Homo sapiens: one gene and its partners. The protein of the gene in region 1 purifies or fractionates together with the protein of each later gene. This does not show direct contact. Each region holds a gene or a part of one and is shown on either strand. Other genes may lie near its edges.

Evidence for each region. The genes of interacting proteins can lie anywhere in the genome.
Region 2: the proteins of KLRC2 (region 1) and PIGG purify together in Homo sapiens (affinity purification with mass spectrometry; one large-scale study listed by BioGRID and IntAct). This does not show direct contact.
Region 3: the proteins of KLRC2 (region 1) and SLC7A11 purify together in Homo sapiens (affinity purification with mass spectrometry; one large-scale study listed by BioGRID and IntAct). This does not show direct contact.
Region 4: the proteins of KLRC2 (region 1) and GALNT13 purify together in Homo sapiens (affinity purification with mass spectrometry; one large-scale study listed by BioGRID and IntAct). This does not show direct contact.

Annotation. Positions count from the first base shown.
Region 1 is NC_000012.12:10,432,686-10,438,053, forward strand, and holds the start of KLRC2 (NKG2-C type II integral membrane protein), read right to left. Parts: upstream 3,326-5,368; 5' UTR 3,302-3,325; coding exon 3,115-3,301; intron 2,726-3,114; coding exon 2,627-2,725; intron 1,846-2,626; coding exon 1,801-1,845; intron 1,258-1,800; coding exon 1,106-1,257; intron 1-1,105. UniProt on the Homo sapiens protein: Immune activating receptor involved in self-nonself discrimination.
Region 2 is NC_000004.12:526,178-531,096, forward strand, and holds part of PIGG (GPI ethanolamine phosphate transferase 2, catalytic subunit), read left to right. Parts: intron 1-861; coding exon 862-1,053; coding exon of another isoform or gene 1,054-1,057; exon of another isoform or gene 1,058-1,364; intron 1,365-4,258; coding exon 4,259-4,568; exon of another isoform or gene 4,569-4,919.
Region 3 is NC_000004.12:138,234,963-138,239,881, forward strand, and holds part of SLC7A11 (cystine/glutamate transporter), read right to left. Parts: intron 1,490-4,919; coding exon 1,363-1,489; intron 1-1,362. UniProt on the Homo sapiens protein: Heterodimer with SLC3A2, that functions as an antiporter by mediating the exchange of extracellular anionic L-cystine and intracellular L-glutamate across the cellular plasma membrane.
Region 4 is NC_000002.12:154,241,890-154,246,808, reverse strand, and holds part of GALNT13 (polypeptide N-acetylgalactosaminyltransferase 13), read right to left. Parts: intron 4,780-4,919; coding exon 4,613-4,779; intron 4,112-4,612; coding exon 3,904-4,111; intron 998-3,903; coding exon 827-997; intron 1-826. UniProt on the Homo sapiens protein: Catalyzes the initial reaction in O-linked oligosaccharide biosynthesis, the transfer of an N-acetyl-D-galactosamine (GalNAc) residue from UDP-GalNAc to a serine or threonine residue on the protein receptor.

The DNA.
Region 1 (5,368 bases):
TGGCCAGGTGGTGTAGACTCGTCTCTCTCTGCTACTCCCGACTAAAAACAACTATAAACTCTGGGATTAATGAAAGACAAAAGCAATGGAGAACTCTGAAAGGTGGAAAGAGAAAGATGAAATTGTCTGGGACCCTAGCATCAGGGATCAACCAAGTGTCCGAGTGAGCATGTTAAGTCCTCCACACGACAGAAGAAGGTGACCTAGGCCTGCTGTTTCCCTACACCCAACCTGGCAATAGGAGGAGGGTATCGAAGGAGAGTCCCCTCCACAATACCAGGCAAGGCTGGTGCCACTGGCAAGGATGATCTACCAGGAGACCTGCTACCAATATGGAGCTAGAGAAAGTGCTTCCTTCTCATACCAAGAGACACCAGGATGGCTGTGGATGAGGAGGATCAGCAAAGGGACCCCATGACTAACAGTGCACCGTAAACCACCTAGGGTCCTCTTTGTCCCTGAGGGCATGAGACCCACTTCCCCATCCAGAGACAAGGACTCAATGGATTCTTACTGTTCTTTGTACATAGTACAGCAGTGAACAGTAACATACTACTGATAACTGCAATAATATGGAGGAATTGCACAAATATCAGATAGGATTGAAAAAGACATGAAATTCACACTGCTTGATTCCCTTTATATAAATAAATTCAAGAACAGGCAATCATTATTTATAATATTAAAAGTCAAGACTGCGTTTTGGAGAGGAGTCAGGATAAGTGATGAGGGCATACACAGGGGTGGAACTGCTAGAGCTGGAAACTTTTATTTCATGATCTGACTTGTATCACATGCATTCATTCACTTTGTGATCAATCTGCATGACCAGATGATATCATGCCCGATAAAATTAGATAGCAAAATTTATTGTGGATTCAAAGCACTTATAGAAGCATGGTTTTCCTTGAAAAACAAAAACTGAAAATAAATGTACATTAGCAGTATATAACTTTAAAAACATTATTAAGTCAATCAATTGAATATTACATACACTTGAAAATATATGAGATAAATATATGTACACACATATGGATGTTTTCTACAAATGTATTATTCACTGAAGGAAGCTTTTCATAAAATGTTTGAAACATTTACATCTTACCATTTCTTCTTCATTATCTATAGAAAGCAGACTGGAGTTCTTCGAAGTACAGGCCAGCAAACTCTCTTCCCAAGTTCTTCTTTCCTTACCAATGTAATAACAACTGTTGGAATATGTAATCCACTCCTCAGGACAATGGCCACAATGACGTGCTAATAAAGATATGAATTACTATCTAGACCAATATGAATTTTTAAAAATGAAAATTAGTTCACATATTTCAACAGTATAAACATATATGTGCTTAACATATTTACGCATCCTTACAGGCTTATAAATGTATATTTTTAATAACTGAGTCAGTCATACACACATGCACAGACAAGGGTTAGCCTCTCCTCCCTAATTGTGTTCCCATATAAAGCAAATGAACAAACAAAAATACACTCTACACATGTGTTGAACATCGCTGATACACAACTGCTTTTTTAGAATAGTAAAATTATTTATTTGGTATCATCTCACAGCAGTAGGAAACCTCTGTTAATTGGGAGAAAGAGGGTAGAATGATTTTAAGTGAGTATTTCTACTCACTGGAGAAAAGGAAATGCTGCCTCATAATCTTTCTTTATAAATATTTATGGCTGAATTTATGGCTTATTTTCTGCAAAAATGCCACTATTCTTTTACATGCCTTAAAACAGACACAAAATATAAATTGTACTAATATCAGAACATTGAAAATAAAAATGTACCTTTCTGCGTTCTTGTATTCGGGGAAAAATTGTTCTGCTCCAGGACTGTAATAGAAAAATTAAAATGATTTTTATAAAAACTGATATCTAGATAAACCATAACGAGTTTAGTTTCTTACTTTGAAACTTTGTGTGTTATTTAAAATGGGGAGAATCTTTAATAAAATTAACTTTTTCTATAAAAATATATAAAGTAATAGACCTTTGAAATAAACATTTTTAAAGACTTTAGCACAAACTTCACCATCTCTTGTAGTATTTGATGTAACCACTTTCAAAAATTAATTTGTTTTTCTAAATACTTTTCTTCTATAGCATGCCTTTGAATTATGAAATCAGAAAATATCTTTGTGTGTGTATGTATATACATATATATAGATTACACACAAAAAATAAACACATGTTCTCTACAATGATTTTGTTATTTATGTTGTGAAAAATTCAGAATAACCATATTACTTTTGGTTCCAAATTGTACTAATATCAGAACTTTGAAAATAAAAATGTACTTTTCTGGGTTCTTGTATTTGGGGAAGAATTGTTCTGCTCCAGGACTGTAACAGAAAAATTAAAATGATTTTTATAAAAAGTAATATTTAGATAAACCATAATGAGTTTAGTTTCTTACTTTGAAACTTTGTGTGTTATTTAAAATGGGGACAATCTTTAATAAAATTAACTTTTTCTATAAAAATAAATGAAGTAATAGATCTTTGAAAGAAACAGTAAAATAAGAGTTCTATTCTTCAACAGTATGAAATATTTTGAGGCACTTCCAAGCATTAAAGTAAAACGTTCCCTTCTAATCTTTCAAGAATATGCTTACAAGGAATAAGAACTATTGTTTTTAACACAGTGGCCATCAGGACAATGCAAATGATTCCTAGGACCTCGGCAGTGAGCTTCTCTGGAGGTGGCAGTAAACCTGCAGGGAGAGAAATAGAGGCACTGAGAGAGGGGAGATAGAGAGTTGATTAGGATTACATACTAGAGAATTACATACTAGAGAACCCACATGCACAGGGAAACATAATGATAAACTCTGGCCTCTAAATCTACATCTACTCTAGTAATCTTTCTCTCAGAATATACCATTTCATTTTCAGTAAATATAATGTTCCATGAGTGGACCGCAGATTACAGTTGAACAATGCCCGAATAAAATTAGTCTTCTGATTTCATATTAGAATTTTAGATCCCAATTATGAACTCCGATTCTCACAAGTGCAAAATATTCCCTAATCTTTCCTCACCCTTCTGCATTCAACTGCACATCCTAGAACAATAATATTGAAGATATATTTAATGTTTTACCTTGGCAGTCATATATTTTATCAATCCCTTGATGATTCAGGGAAGGATTTTGAAGATTTAATTCTACTTGGAATATTTCCTGTTCGGTTCCTGAAATGGAGCTTTTATTGCCTTTAGGTTTCCTTTGCTGCCGCTTTGGGTCCTGGGCCAGACTCACTTCTGAGAAGGTTCCTCTTTGTTTATTCATCTCTGCAGCTGTGTGATGTGAGGGACTGTGCTCTATGATAACTGCACTTAAGAAGCTATAAATGGTGTATATTTTGACAGGATCCCTGGTATAGGCAATGTGCATGTGTTGGGGCTGAGTAATAATGTTTACTTTGCTGTTAACCAATGTAAAATTCTGCTACTAATTTCCTAAAGCTTTAAACAAAAATCACACGATATAATTGGCAATTTTTTAGATGTATTCTGTATTTGACATAATATTACTAGTGGGAACAATAAAAACATTAAACTTATGAGAACTAGGAAGTTCATGAAAAATTGGTATTAAATTAAGGTTAGATTCTTCAAAAATGTTTAACACCAATAGACTGCATATGTCAACAATCAAAATACTGTATTTAGAAATACACAAATTTTATCATAGTTTTAAGAGTCATTGATGGTTAAGGATTGTGTGCCATAAGATAAAATAGTTCTGTCAGCATATAGAGTATCTTCTTATACTAAAATACATTGTTAGTGACTTACATTCATTTATTAAAAGGACCTGAGGTATTGTCAAATGATTTTTTTTCTAAATTAGGAAATCAGAAAAATCATTAAAATTTTAAAAATATATCTTGTAAAACATTACATTACTGTATGCATAAATATTATTGAAAACGTATTTTTAAATTGCTGCTTTTACACAAGAAATTGGTAATTGATTTAATGACTAAAATAGGAAAACTTAAAATGATAAATAAACGTGTGGGCCGTCTATGGAAGAATAGTGTCCAATCAAACTTTCAGAAAGCTCCTATGATTGTATAAGTCAGTGAGGGTTGCTTTGGTTGTATAAGTAATTGTAATAGTTCAGATAATGTAATTTAATAATCTAGTCAATGAGCTCTGTAGTCAGTGAGACTACAATTAATTCTAGCTTTGCAAGTTGTAATATGTGACCTGTACTAAATTACTTAGTGTCTACTAACCTAGTTTACTAATCTACATTGGGAAAAATAATTTATAAAGTATAATGTATGTAAAAAACTAAACACACAACCTGGCACATGTTACCACTGAATACATAATAGATATTTCAACTATTTTTAACACAATTGCCATTTTATTATTTCTGATTTGCATTAGAGTGTGTTAAAATAACTCATTAATTAGGCGTCTCATGTCAGTGTGGTACATCTTTTTTGCAATGTTTGGTTCAATTGTTTTAAGTCTTCCAATTGTTTATAATTAAGGTCAGATTTGCATTTTATGGAAATGATTTCATCCTTACTTTTATTAAAAATTAAAACTGCTTTCATGAAATCTAGGTGTGTGATTGAGAATTAATGTTTGACATTCACAATTTGATGTATCCATATTAAAAATTTATTTTTAAAGTTTGGTCTAAATATAATATACAAAATGTAATGGTTACAAAATCCAAAATTAATTGTTCATTGTCATGATGGTTATGGGTTTCACTCTAAATTACATGGATTGGCAAACCTATTATTATGTATGCATCTACTTGAGTGATTCTCCAGCGGCAATGATGTGAATACTCTAAGAAATCCTTAAACATAGTTTATATTTTGGCTCGTTTTTCACCTTGAATTATTCACGTGAATAAAGTTCTACCTTGATTTTCGTCTATATCAACTTTACCTCAGGTGCATCACAGCCAGTACTTACAATCTTCTACTAAATGAGATGAGCTAGTAGAGAAACAGGGAGAGGAGCAACACTTACCTACTGTCATCAGAAAGCCACACGCCCTTCAGTGGAGAGGTCAGGTTACCTCTGAAAGACACAAACGTTATCTGTGATCTTCACAGGCTGCCCTTTGAAGGGTCAGAGTGAGGCAAGAGTGGAAAAAGTAGATTCCTCACCAATGTGTCACTGCAGATTTGAACAGGAAATTCTCACCCTAGGGCTATTTTGAATCAGTTTGTCTCATCACACACTTTAGAATATAGGAGACTTTGGGTGGCTAGTGTGTCATTTAGTTTGTCCATTTTAAAGTGCCTCTTAGAAATTATTTTTATGGTCGACAAGATGAGGGGAGAGCAGAGATTTGATCCATGCTGGTGATTGTTTCCAT
Region 2 (4,919 bases), on another chromosome or scaffold:
TTTTATTATTATAACAATCCTGAAGATTGTGTAAAAACGCGTGCCATTTAAAAAGCAACAATACACAGACACCCAGGTACCCCTTCCCGGGGTGAGGCCCAGGCCCCCGTGTGGCCCCAGTCTCCCCGTCATCCTGGGAGGCTTTGAAGCGGGAGCTGCAGTGAAAGAAACAGAAGGGAGCCCGGCCTTCCCCACCCTCACACAGGCCAGGACTGGCTGGTGCTGCACCACCGCATCGCGGTCGGGACTCCGGGCTCTGCCCTCTGACAGGCCGTCAACCTCTGCACCATCTCCTCACCCAGGAGCGGGTGACAGCAGACCCTGTGAGGCCATGTGGGTCTAGGGACGTATCATGCGTTACTGAGTTAATGGGAGGAGGCAGGAGAGGGGAGGTGAGCTGGTAGGTGCAGGGCTGACCCCGAGAGGGTACCAGGGAACAAGAGGACGGTTTCTATTTGTCACCGCCTGGCCTCTGGGCATCCACATCTGATGGTGGGAGACCCGTTTGTGAATGAGAAGTGAGAGTTCAAGTTAACTGTCTTTTTTTTTTTTTTTTAATGAGTTCTCACCATGTGGCCCAGACTGGTCTCAAATTCCTGGCCTCAAGCGATCCTTCCGCATTGGCATCCTAAAGTGCTGGGATTGCTGGTGTGAGCCACCACACCCCACTGAGGTTGACCATCTTTTATTTGTTACACTTTAAGAACCTTTGTTTGAAAATAAAAATCAACAATTTCATGTAATCTTTGGTTTTTGGGAAAATCAGCTATTTTTTAATACCGTTCTTTGAAAGCCACTTGGTGTAGATTGATCTTGTCGCTGTTTGTTTACGTAATGCTGGCATTTTCCATCTCATTTCAGCTCTGACCACAAAGCCGAGCTCTCTGTCCTGGCTGCCCTCTCCCTCCTCGTAGTTTTTGTGCTGGTGCAGAGGGGGTGCTCCCCTGTGTCCAAGGCTGCCCTGGCGCTGGGGCTGCTGGGCGTCTACTGCTACCGGGCGGCCATCGGGAGTGTCCGGTTCCCGTGGCGGCCGGACAGCAAGGACATTTCCAAGTAAGTGCGTGGCGGACACGGGGTGCATAGAGCCACTTTACTGTTTGAAGAACTGGCGGACACGGGGCGCGTGGAACCACTTCACTGTTTGATGAACTGAGAAGACCAAGCCAGTCTTCAGAGCATTGGAGTTTGGTGTTTGTGAATTGTGATTGTGTCAACAGCTACTGGAGTGTAACTAAGAAAACCTCAACCAGCTGCGTTGTTAGCACTTTTTATGTTTTATGTGTTACTTTTAGGAGACAAATCACTTGGAAGTAAGATTTTTTAAATTTAAAATAAAACCTTCAGGGTGTGTGATGGGACAGACAGATGAGCGTGAATCGGTTTCTAAGTTAGTGGCAGCACGTGATGGCCAGGGTTCTGTTTTCCTGGTCAGGGTGTAATTGGTGATGAGGATGATGAGTGGATGTTTCCCAGCAGCTGGGAAATGAAGCTTGCTGGAAAATCAGACCGTCCTTGTAATTTATAACGAGCCCCCGTAAGGGGCCAGGAGCTCCTGTTGATTGGCGGGAGGGCTCAGTCAGGAGGACCATTTTATTTTCTTTGTGTCAAAGCAACTGTGTTTCTGATTTTAATTGTGTTGTGGTGGTGAACACAGGAGTGGGATGAGCAGAGGCCGTTCTGGAGGGCAGCTTGTAACATGTGGGTGACCCTCTATTTAAATTTAAATAGCTGTTTCCATTTATCTCAAGAATATAAGCAGAGGCAGGAGCCTGGGATGGGACAGAGGCATGTCCACTGAAGTGTCCTTCACAAAGTGTCCTTGCAAAAAGGAACAACCAGGGTAATTATCCAGCAGCAATACAGTGATCCTCCCAGTGAGGTCGGTGCTCTGACAGTGACCGTCCCAGTGAGGTCGGTGCTCTGATAGTGACCCTCTCAGTGAGGTCGGTGCTCTGCAGAGGGGTCTTCTGGCTGTTAGGCAGCCTATTTTCACAGAACAGAGAAGCATGTTGTGGAACAGGTATGACCCCAGCTTACTAATTGTGTACCTGTTTTTTTTTTCATACTTATATGAAAGACTACATACTTAAAATACTGGTGATTATATTTAGGACCTGAAATCATAAGATTGTGGTCTTGCTTTTTACTTATTTTTGTATCTTAGCGATGTCTAGAGTTAATAAGTGTTGCTTTTCTAATCACAGCAAGTCAAGGTGACTGCTGAGGGCTGTGGCCAGCCTGAGGGGTGGCCGTGGGGCTCCGGGGGCACCCCTGGAAGTACTTCCTGGCTGAGTGGGGAGTAAGGGGTGGGAGTTAGGGTGACCTGAGGCCTGGCTGAGGCAGTGAGAGTGTAGCAGGCCGTCATACGGGGCCGGGGCCTGGGGCAGAGAGGATGCTGACGTGCAGGTACCAGCGGTGTTCTGTGGAGATGTCTCAAAGGCTGTTGACTTTGGAATCTGAGACTTAGGGCTCATCCAAATGGATGTTACATTTGCGGGTGTGTGTTTAAGGTGCAGCGTATGAATAAATTCATTTCCTCACAGATCTATACACTGAATTTCAGCATCACTCATCTCAAGACCTTGGCCCTCTTCCCTTTCCTGGCCTGCTTCCTGCAGCATGTAATTTGCTAGTGTCCAGAACTAGCCAGTGTGCCTTTTCTTTCCACACGCACTGCCTGGTTCACCTTCTTCCTGTAAAGTGCCTCCGTCCTTTGTCCCCATCTGTCCCGATCGTAAATAGGTCCTGGCTACAGAGGCATCCTGGCTCTAGATCATTGTAACAGCTGCCGCTCTCCTGTCAGTCCCCCGGGCCCTGCCATCCACTGAGAGTCTGAAATCCTTTGCACTCAGTTCCTGACTGTCCTCCACTCAGAAGCCCAGGGATGGCTGGAGTGGAGGTGGAAGCGGGGTGGGCCTGGTTGAGCAGGATCAGACTCTGCCCGGCCAGGGGAGGAGGAGGAGGACCCACCAAAGGCCCTGGATGATGCCCCTCCTGCTCATCACCCTGCCTGCCCTAGCATCCTCTCGACACAGAAACCAGTCCCTTTTCTTCTATGAAACTTCTCCAGTGATTGTGACCTTTGCTGATTTCTCCCTTCTTTGAATGCAGATGGGCCTATAATTCACTCTTAACTTAGCACACACCTTGGCCTGTGGGGGTTGCCAGGTACCTGACCCCAGCTCCTCAGCCAGGATGTGGGCCCCTCCTGGCAGCCACACTGCCAGGCACATGGTATACAGTGCTCAGGCTGTTTGAACTAAACTGATCAAAGTTTACTTTCTTAATGTAAAAGCTTTCTAAGAAAATCTAATATAGGAAAATTCAGTTTTCACAATATTATGATATTAAAAATTACGATTATTTTAAATGATCAGATTTGTAGGCTGTGTGAAGCATTTCATTTACAAAATTTATTTAAAATATTATGTTTTAGGAACATACGTGTTTTGTAAGATGAAATTTTTTGGTAATTGTATCCTTTACAGATAACTATCATAAGAGTACTTAATTTTACTGAGCTTACTGTGTGCCAAGCACTCCCTGCATTCCCTTGCTTAATTCCTAGGATGACTTTGTGAAGTGTAGAACCATTTTCTCTCCATTTCACAAATAGCAAAGCTGAGGGTCAGAAGTCTTGATTGACACGCCCGAGTAGGAGAGCTAGTGAGCAGAGCAGCAGGGCTCGGACTGAGCAGAGCTCTGCCTTTTCTCAGAGCCCGCGGGTTGGATGACTGCACCACTGCACGCGTGTGTGCCTGTGAATGTGCAGGTGCTTATTTACCTATAACTGCATGTATGTGTACCTGTAAATGTGCAAATCCTTCTTTAAATCTGCTCAGTTGTGCAATGAACATTTATGAACTTACAGCAGTTTCTTAGAGTTGACTCTTATACTAGTGCGTTGGGTTTTTTTTAATTAACTGCAAAGCAGGCGGGCCACGAGGGCACCGCTTGGGTCGTGCCACCAGATGAGCCAAATGAGCAAGATCTCCCCGAAGCCAGCCCCAGCGGAAGAGTCTGCACGAGGACACACCTGTGGGCCTGTGGCGGCGGCTCCTCAGGGCTGCTGTGCGGAGGAGACATGCCCACTGCCATGACAGGACCTGGGGGGTAGGGAGGGTGCCGCGGCTCCTTTAGTCAGCAGTGCTGGACATTTACTGGTTCCCTGGGTAGATAGGTGTGTTTTTCATGGGAAAATGTTTTTGAATTTTTCTCACTGGTGCTAATGAATCTAACTTGTTTTGCTCTTTTTTAGGGGTATTATTGAAGCTCGTTTTGTTTATGTCTTTGTCCTTGGCATTCTGTTCACGGGCACCAAAGACTTACTTAAATCTCAAGTCATTGCTGCAGACTTCAAACTCAAGACTGTAGGTTTATGGGAGATATATAGTGGATTAGTTCTTCTGGCAGCCTTGCTCTTTAGACCACATAATCTTCCGGTCTTAGCATTTAGCCTCTTGATTCAGACTCTAATGACTAAATTCATCTGGAAGCCCCTGAGACACGATGCAGCTGAGATTACTGTGATGCATTATTGGTTTGGTCAAGCATTCTTCTATTTTCAGGTAGGTTTTCATTATTATCATGGGTAGTAGACTTCATGTTTTACATATTTATTTTAAATTTTTCTTTGAGAAAATGTTCCCATAAGTTGGAAAGTGACTGTCAGTGTGGCATGGTGAATTACGCTGAACTCTCGTGTATTTTATAAGACAAAGTACAGCCGGTTGTTTAAGACACGCGTCCCAGGTGTGGATGTGTGGGTGCTTAAGACAGCAGACTGCTGCTTTGCTGGGCCAGGCCTGGGTTTATTTATTACAAGCAGTTCAGGAAGCACAGACATCACGTTGTTCACTTGCTTCACTGATGAATGTAATAATTGTTCTCGTTCATGCCCTTTGCCCCTGGTGTCGGGG
Region 3 (4,919 bases), on another chromosome or scaffold:
TATATGCCAAAAAAAGGGCACTGACCTAAGTAGTATATGGGTTACAAAAAGATCTTATCTTTGTATGCTTGAAATGTTGGCAGTTTTAAAAGGGAAACAAAATATAGACACCTAAAATATTAAGGAAGAATAGAAGGTATCATGCTCAATGCCAAATGTGAAGCAGAGATAGAATTTTCAGAAGAATTTAGAGATGAAAGAAATAACATAAATTAGAATAAACAGGAAATTAATTGTGGGAAAGAAAGGATTTAAGATGACCTTTGAAGAGCAGATAAGATTGAGATAACCAAAAGGAATAGAAGTGCATTCCTGATAGAGGAATTTCAGGAAAGGAAAAAAATACTTATTATTATTTCATTATAACAATTTTAAATAATGCAGAGTGTTTAAAATGAAAAAGCCTTCATGAAGCATATACTACTTTGAAGATCTTTTTTTGGTTAAAAAAAAAAAGACTTCTAACACTGTAAAACTCATGATTAGTGTTGTCAATACTTACTAGCACTGTATTTGGCACTTAGCCATAAAAGCTCACATGAACTCTCAATCACATATGTTTGATAAGTTTGATAAGAGCAAGTTTCCCTAGTAATATCCATTAAATTCTGTAATCAGACTGTGCACATCACATTTTATCAAAGTAGTTAGCCTTAAGGAACTGTGATACTCTGAAATGCTCATATGACATCATAAGCTTCCCACAAAGTCGAAGGAAATTTGCTATTCAGAGTGACTTAGCACTATTCAGTGTGATTTTAAACCAAGACAAGCAGGAATGTAAACACATTGTTACAACAATAAAATCAAAAAAGACTTTTGGAACTGTAGTTCCTAATCTGTTTAATATAAGGAAATGAGTCATTTGACTCTGTCATGCAAACTCTGTTTTTTATGAAGTATAAGACTTGGTGACCAACTAAGTTGTGAGGCACAGAAGTGTCTTGGTCACAATGACTAAGTAAAGTTAAATGCCTTAATGATATAATCTACAATAAGAGAAAACTTCAATATTTAATTTGGTCTAGTTGGTCAAAAGGTATCCAGGTGAATTTTCATGTTCATATTCTTTCAAGTAAGCATCTTTCTCCTGGAAGTGTCAAAGAGAATAGCTGAGGGTCAAAGAAAGGTAGATATTTCTAAAAGTTTGGCATTGCTGGTGAACTGCTTGTCAGTGATAAAATTGCATTAAAAATATCTTAATTCAGAAAGGTACTTTATCACAGGCTTTATATCCTGAGGTAGACATGTTTATCATGTAGTCACATGACATGCATGTGTCTAACCAGTTAAAAATAATCAAGGTGATTCATAAGAATGAATTGGTTTATTTTTTCTTAATTCTTTCTACTATGCTCTTACCGTATTATGAGGAGTTCCACCCAGACTCGTACAAAAGCTGGTAATGGACCAAAGACTTCCAAAATATATGTGTAATGACCTCCAGATTTCTTTATAGTTGTTCCCAATTCAGCATAAGACAAAGCTCCTGTGAAATATTTGTCACAAAATGGTACCAATTTAATACATTTTCAAGACACCCAGCATTAGAATAGATACAATAATGTTTATATGTTGCCTGAGATGTAACTGCCTCCTTTGGTCTGAATGGCATCCTTACTCAAGACAAATAACCATCATCTAATTGCTAAGACCCGCCAAGTTCCTTTTCTAACATCCTCACAGTTGAGATTTAGTGTATTCTATTTGAACACTATAATTTTACTTGAAATGACAAAGATACATGTCTGCAACAATATCATGTGTTCCAGAATTTTGAGCTGAAAACCTGGAAATAGGGGAAAAAGAGGAGAGAGATGTCAATAATATTGACCTATTTTTAGAAGAACACAACCTCACACCAAGACAAGGCATTAGTCCAAATGTTTGAGTTAGCTTTTAAGTTTTTTGAGTTATTTTTTGAGAACCCTTTTAATAAATTATGTTTCTGTGGAAAATCAAAATGAACAAGCTGTATCCACTCTTTAGAAAACCATGGACTCTCTGACTTGCAAGATTTCTTTTTTTTTTTTTTTTTTTTGAGACGGAGTCTCACTCTGTCGCCCAAGCTGGAGTGCAGTGGCGCGATCTCGGCTCACTGCAAGCTCTGCCTCCTGGGTTCACACCATTCTCCTGCCTCAGCCTCCCGAGAAGCTGGGACTACAGGCGCCCGCCACCACGCCTGGCTAATTTTTTTTGTATTTTTAGTAGAGACGGGGTTTCATGGTGTTAGCCAGGATGGTCTCAATCTCCTGACCTCATGATCTGCCCGCCTTGGTCTCCCAAAGTTCTGGGATTACAGGTGTGAGCCACTGTGCACGGCCAAGATTTCATTTAATTTGTAGGATATATTTTGTCAACAAAATGAATTCTGACTCTGTTTCTATAAAAGGCTATCTTGGATGTTTTTTGAAGTGTACTCTCTGGGTGTTTTTTTTTGTTTGTTTTTTGTTTTTTTGAGATGGAATTTTTGGTCACCCAGGCTGGAGTGCAATGGCGCTGTCAGCTCATTGCAACCTCTGCCTCCTAGGTTCAAGCAATTCTCCTGCCTCAGGGTCCCGAATAGCTGGGATTACAGGTGGCTGCCACCACATCTGGCTAATTTTCATATTTTTAGTAGAGACAGGGTTTCACCATGTTGGCCAAGCTGGTCTTGAACTCCAGACCTCAGAAGATCCATCCACCTCGGCCTCCCAAAGTGCTGGGATTACAAGTGTGAGCCACTGCGCCTAGCCAGAATATATATATATATATATATATATATATATATATATATTTTTTTTTTTTTTTTTTTTTTTTTTTTTTTGAGATGGAGTCTCACTCTGTCCCCCCAGGCTGCAGTGCAGTGGCACGATCTCTGCTCACTGCAACCTCTGTCTCCAGGGTTCAAGTGATTCTCCTGCCTCAGCCTCTCAAGTAGTTGGGATTAGAGGTGCCTGCCAGCACGCCTGGCTAATTTTTTGTATTTTTAGTAGAGACAGGGTTTCTCAATTTTGGTCGGGCTGGTCTCAAACTCCCGACCTCAGGTGATCTGCTTGCCTTGGCCTCCCAAAGTGTTGGGATTACAGGCGTGAGCCACTGCGCCCGGCCCAGAATATACTTTTTAAAATGAGGTGCTATAATTTATATTTGTGTACTTTAGATCAAATTAACTATAAGCTAAATTTTTAACATTTAACGATACAATTCACATAAAATTGGACAAATATGCAACTCCCCAAAACCTCAGTTTCACTCTCTGTGAAATGGAGATCTCAGCTTCTACCTCATAAAGGAGTTGTGTGTATAAATGTGGCAGCGGGTACCTAGTACAGTACATGGCCTGACACATGGCAAGCACCACATGAAATATAGCTATACTTATTAATTTGAGTAATTAACAAGAAAATTTAAAAAAATCCTGTCATTATGTGAAAAGTTCTATCTGTACTGCCAAGTGCTCAAATGTAAGAACACAATTTTTTTCCAATCTACTTCTGAGAATAAAAGTGTAGAAAAGTACTACTGATTAGTAATAATTTAGACAGAACTGCTCAATATAAATATAATTTGGATATTCAGTGAAATCTTAGTGTTACATATTTTATATCTGATTTCTAAACTTATCATGACATCAAAGTCACCTAGGAATAATTTTTTTTTTTTTTTAATTTTTGAGATAGGGTATCACTCTGGCACCTAGGCTGGAGTGCAGTGGCACAATCTTGCCTCACTGCAGCCTCTGCCTCCTGAGCTCAAGTGATCCTTCCACGTCAGCCTCCCAAGTAGCTGGGACCACAGGTACACACCACCATGCCCAGCTAAATTTTTGTGTATTTTTTGTAGAGGCAGGGTTTTGCCATGTTGCCCAGGCTGGTCTGGAACTCCTGGGCTCAAGGGGTCTGTCTGCCTCAGCCTCCCAATGTGCTGAGATTATAGGCATGAGCCACCATGCTCAGTCTGGGAATAATTTTTAATTCGAAAACACTCAAACCAAAAACAGACTCTAATCAAGAGAGTATAGATTGTCCACAAGAGAAATTCAAGAATCTCTATCATTTTAAAATTTGTACAAATAATTCTAAAGTAACGAGTCTGCAGACTAATATTTGGGGAACACTGATGTATTTCATCTACCTATAACTAATTTTAACTAGTTGCAACTCACTCTCCATGGGGAAACATTCGCCATGTTGGTAGGCTGTCCAGAAAAGGATCCAATATAAAATGTTATTGGGAAGAGTCTTAAGTACCTCAGAATTTATTGTCAGAGAATCAATACCTAGACCTCTATATGCTTTACTGAAACTCCAGGATGGTTGCCCTAGGTTTAAACTGAGTTCTGGGGGAATGATTTTCATTTAAAGGTCTCAAGCTTCATAACCATTTTGCCCAGATGAAAAAAGTTCAAAACAAGATGTAAAAATCCATGTATTGACCCTTCACTTAAAAAAAAAGTATATATATGTATTAAACCAAATGTACAGATTCTTTACAGTTGGTCCCAAAGTTCTAGAGTCTTTTTAAAAAGAAGGATTATTTTTTCTTCAGATTTTGCTTTGCTTGCTGTTACAGAGGCACTCCTGTCCAAAAGCTTCTGGTAACTTAAGTGACAAATGCAATGCAAATAAAGATAAGTAGATTAATACAAGAGCACACTCCCTGCAATTACTAATCAAAGAATACCAACTCAAGTGTAATGTTAGCTAGTCTCCTTAGCTGTTTCTCTCTTTTTATTTTTTTTTGAGCTTTTGCTTCAGATGATATGTAATACTTATGCATAAGCATATTTTCATAGTGCAAGTCAACACACTTTAACTAGTTCAATACTCATACTGATCTATTTTATTACATCTGAATAATCTTTTATTATGTGCAAAAATTGAATCACATAGTGGAAGCTGCATGCACATAAGTACGCAAAGTCCAGTAAACTGGTT
Region 4 (4,919 bases), on another chromosome or scaffold:
CAAGAACCTGTTGACAATGCTAAGTGAGGACTTAAAGTGTATGTTTCTAGAATGTTAGGGTATTTCTCTCATGTTCCAAAGGAAGGATGATTTGCCAAATTCATCTTTAAAGAACTAAACTAGTGAATACTTCCGAAAGTATTTTTCAGGAAATCGATTTTTAGTTTCAGGTAAGAGGTCCACAATGTGTTTAAGTAGGAAGATGATACTTTTGTGTTAATAAAGTGGGTAATGCTTATACAGACAATTCGAGATGTATATGATATTTTTTATTACAAGTAAGTGCATATTTTACTAATCAGGATTTCAACTTAAGTAGTATTTGAAGTAATTTGGGATAATAAGCCCTTCATAATTTTGAATACATTAATATTTTCCAAATGGACCTATAGAATCTATAAGGAAGATAACCTTTTAAAGGTGGTATATTTAGAATACTTACCAAAACATTTTTGGCTATTTCAGTTTTGAGAACATTTCTATTATAAATCTATACTTTAAGGTAAGACACACATTTACTTGAAGTGTCAAGGCTAGCACATTTCTGTCACATAGAAAATTCACAGTAAATATATTTTGAATACAAGAATACATAAACTTTCAAAAGATATTTAGCATTTTTGCCAATACTTAAGTTTGCCTATACTAATTTAAATTAGATTTAATATTGTCATTGATCCTTATATGATTATGTAAAGGTCATAATGTATATGTATATTGAATAATAAGGATACAATTAAATAATTAAACATTAGAACAGAAATCTATAATATTCCTTAATTTTTAGGGGGATATACATAATCTTCAAGAGATATGATCTACATACCTGACAGGTAATGTTCTGTCTCCTTTCCTCCTGTCCATTTCTCTTTGGGGAACAGGATACCAGCGGAAATTCAGTTTCCAGTTAAAACCCCCATAAGTCATGTCTGACCCAGCCATATATTCAAAAGTATCATCACTAATCACATCAATGATAGGGCAGACAACCGTTTTCCTGCAGAGAAATTAAAACCAATTTATAGACACATGATAATTAAAATGTTACATTATCTTCTTCAAACTGATTATAGCTGATATGAGGAAATTTAATTATTTTGTTACTTTAATATGCCTTTAGCTTCATTTTATCCTATTAGTCCATGGAATTATTTCCTTTGACTACATATTCCTTACAGTTTACTTTATGCTATCTTTTGAAATCTAAACAAGTTTATTTCCAAATGCATTCTAAGTACTAACTTAGCAAGATGAGCAGGGTCTATTTTTTATAAAACCTCCACCCACAGCATGATTAGTAGAGCTGCTTTGAGATTATGCATCATTTTAGCTATAATCCATTGAAAAGAAATAGCATTCAGGGAGGTAAGAAGGGATGATGGCAAATTAGATCTGGTAGTTTGCATTTCAAGTAGGGTACGTTAGTTTAGAGAGTTCTGAGAACATCTTCATGGAGAAAACACCTACTAGGAAAAACAAACAGAAATCAACAAACAGCAACAACAAAAATCATAATCCGTCAGTATAAGTAAATGTTTCCGATGAAAGATGATAGGGTCATGACCATTTCTGAGTAAAATGTCCTCAAATTAAGAGTTTACATGTATAATCTAGATGATAGCTTAAGATAGGGAAAGATAAGCAACTTTAATCTCTGGTGTTTTATTTATTTATTTATTTATTTATTTATTTATTTATTTATTTTGACAGAGCCTTGCCCTGTCACCCAGGCTGGAGTGCAGTGGGGAGATCTCAGATCAGTGCAAACTCTGCCTCCCAGGTTCAAGCAATTCTCCTGCCTCAGCCTCCCAACGTGCCTGCCATCATACCTGGCTAATTTTTGTATTTTTAGCAGAGACAGAGTTTCACCATGTTGGCTAGGTTGGTCTCGAACTCCTGACCTCAGGTGATCCACCTGCCTTGGCCTCCCAAATGCTGGGATTATAGGTGTGAGCCACCGCACCTGGCCTATCCCATTTTTCTTAAAGTAAGAGAAAGGTTGGTGTTCTTAATGGTAGCTTTCTATGGTAGAAAATTTCATTTGGGAAAATCATTAGGTACACTTTTAATCCATGTTGTGCCTTCTCTAATTCTTGATCTAATGCCTGTTCATTTATTTTATTATGGGACCAACCTTCTGTGATTTCCACAAGTAAATGTTCAGGCCTACTCAAATTGTATTGGTTGTAGCTAATTCTGAAGACCAGAGTTGGTTTTTCATATTTGGTAGAAGGTAAATACACAAATAAGCTTCTGAATCATCCCTAGATATGAAAAGCACATAAATGTCCATTATTCATACTTGTTTTGTAACACCAGTTTCACCAATACTCATTTTCAATTGAAGTCTTATATTCCACACAACTGACCAGAGCCTCAACTTATCTGCGATCAACAAGACTCCTCTAGCCTTGGAAAACCTTCTTGGTGACTCTGGACCCCAGAAAAATCAACATTTTTCTCACTTCCTTTATTAGATTTAATGATTTAACTTGTGAGGAGAAGAAATTAGGTCTAAAAATCTTGAACAGACTGTCTATTTAGGGTAGTTTTAAACTTTATAATCAGGTCAAGACAATAGGGTTCATCATATGCAAATACAGTGCAATTATGTTGTTAGATCAAAAAAATAAATAGCCTATGTATGACCGTATTGAAACATTAAAAGCTCATTCAGTTGAATATGAAACACATGTGGAAAAAAAAAACAACATAATGTACCAAAATTTGCCAGGAAATTCATTTTTAAGTTCATTTTACTTTGCCAGTCTGATTGTCCTGTGGGTACTGTACAATACACAGAGTGGAAAAATGTTATTAGCCATGTACAACACTCTATGGACTAAAAGGTTCCTACTGCTTTCTTCAACTGCTGTGCTTCATTTTACTGACAGCTTCCATCCATCTTCCTGGCAAGTACCAAATCCTGCTGTTTAAGTGATGTGGCTGGACTAGCTCAGACTAAGTAGCTCCTATCTTGAGTGTCTAATTAAAAATGTCAATTCTAGAAGGAATTTTCTACTATAGACGAAATGACTATGCAAGTATGGTGTTATGTAATGTTTTGTTATTGTATCAGTTGGCATTCAATGTTAGTTATCTAGGTATTTAGAAATTATACTCTCTTATCACCAGTGTTTATAAATATTTGCTAAAAAATGCTTGTACTTCATCAACAACAGAAGGAATTGCAGGTATGTATAAGGATTCTTAATTTCTATAAGTGTTATTTATTCAATTTTCCAGATTTCAAAATGTGTATGTATAAGGTGACATTGTTGAAATAATTAAACATATTCTTATAGCTGTGCTCTTATGTTTCTTTTTTTAATTATAATTTTTTCAGTGCTGTGTGTGTGCATGTGTGTGTGTGCATTTTTAAGACATTCCAGGTGGATTTGAACTAGACTGACTAAGGGTGCTCGTGTAGTTTACAGAACACTGGCAGAGAACTGGAAAGAGCTGAATTGTTGTTCCCAGCACTTCCAATGACAGGAGCAAGTTAGATGTGGCTTCTTTGTTCCTCCTCATTATAAGTTATAGATAAGAATATCTACAGTACCTACCTCACAGGGTGGTTGTCAGAACACAAAAAGGTGCTTTGAAAATGTGCTTTATAACACAATTATACTATTTTAGATTATATTTATTTCCTTCACCTAAAAAGTAATTTAACACGTTTTTATTATTTGAATTATTTCACTATTTCTTAATCAACTATCTATGTCCAGCATGAATACAGCAGTCTTATTTATCAAGCAAGTGGGAAAACGTGCTTTTAAGAAAAGCTATAAAATAAACCTTCTAAAAATAGCAACTTGGAAGAGAAATTCTGATGGACATCTGGAACTGTCCTAAGAGGTTCAGTCATAACCCAGGCAGACAGAACACATAAATTCTTACCTGTCTTCCTTTATTCTTGCCAGCAAAGGCTCCAGCCATCCTAACGTGCATTCACAGTGTGCATCAAGAAAAGTTATGACCTGCCCTTTTGAAGCAGCTGCTCCTCGAAGACGGGCACGTATTAACCCAGAGCGTTCTTCCATCCTAATAATTTTTACTGGCACTTCTAAATTTTTCACGTAATTCTCTAATGTCAACTTGAGAAAATCTGTAACATGTATAAGAATTTATAAGAAAAATTTTTGAAACTGTTTTAAGAAATAGCAGAGATACTACCAAGATGGAAATTCAACACACAGAAATGGTGGCCAATTCCTATCAGTATTTACTGCCTTAGATATAAAATAATAGAGATTTCATTAGTTAATTAATGTCAAGTATCCATAAAATCATATGAGAATGCTCAATAATATAATCAATTGAGTTGGAAAAAAGATATATTTTTGAAAGTCATTTTGGCTGAAATTTTAGGTAAGAACCATATAGAATCATGAGAGAAAGTGAAAGAATTAGTTATTTGCTTCTAGAGTTGGCATTAATGAGGTTCTTGATGAGAATCTGATAGGCTGTGGCAGGGCTAGTAAAATTATAATGCAAATATAGATCATTGCCTAGTTATCTTTTTGGCCATAATAAAGCTTTCTAATACAAAAAAACAAAACAAAACAAAACAAAAAAACAAAAACAAAAACAAAAAACCAGTTTGTACCTCTTTCACTGGCATCATCTACCAAGATGACCTCTGAGAGTAGATAGTGTGGGGAACGATTTATCACACTGTAAACAGTTCTAAGGAGAGTGCTCCAAGCTTCATTATGAAACACAATGACTACACTTGTGTTTGGAAGTTCATCAGGGTAGACTTTTGTCTTACATCTGAAAAAGAGAAAAGAAGAGGGATCTTAATAAATGCATTTTTTATCCTGATTATTTTAAAAAGAAATATCCATAATAACACAACTTCAGACTTGAAAGCCCCTTACTAAGGAAATGTTTTATGAATATCTAAAATCATT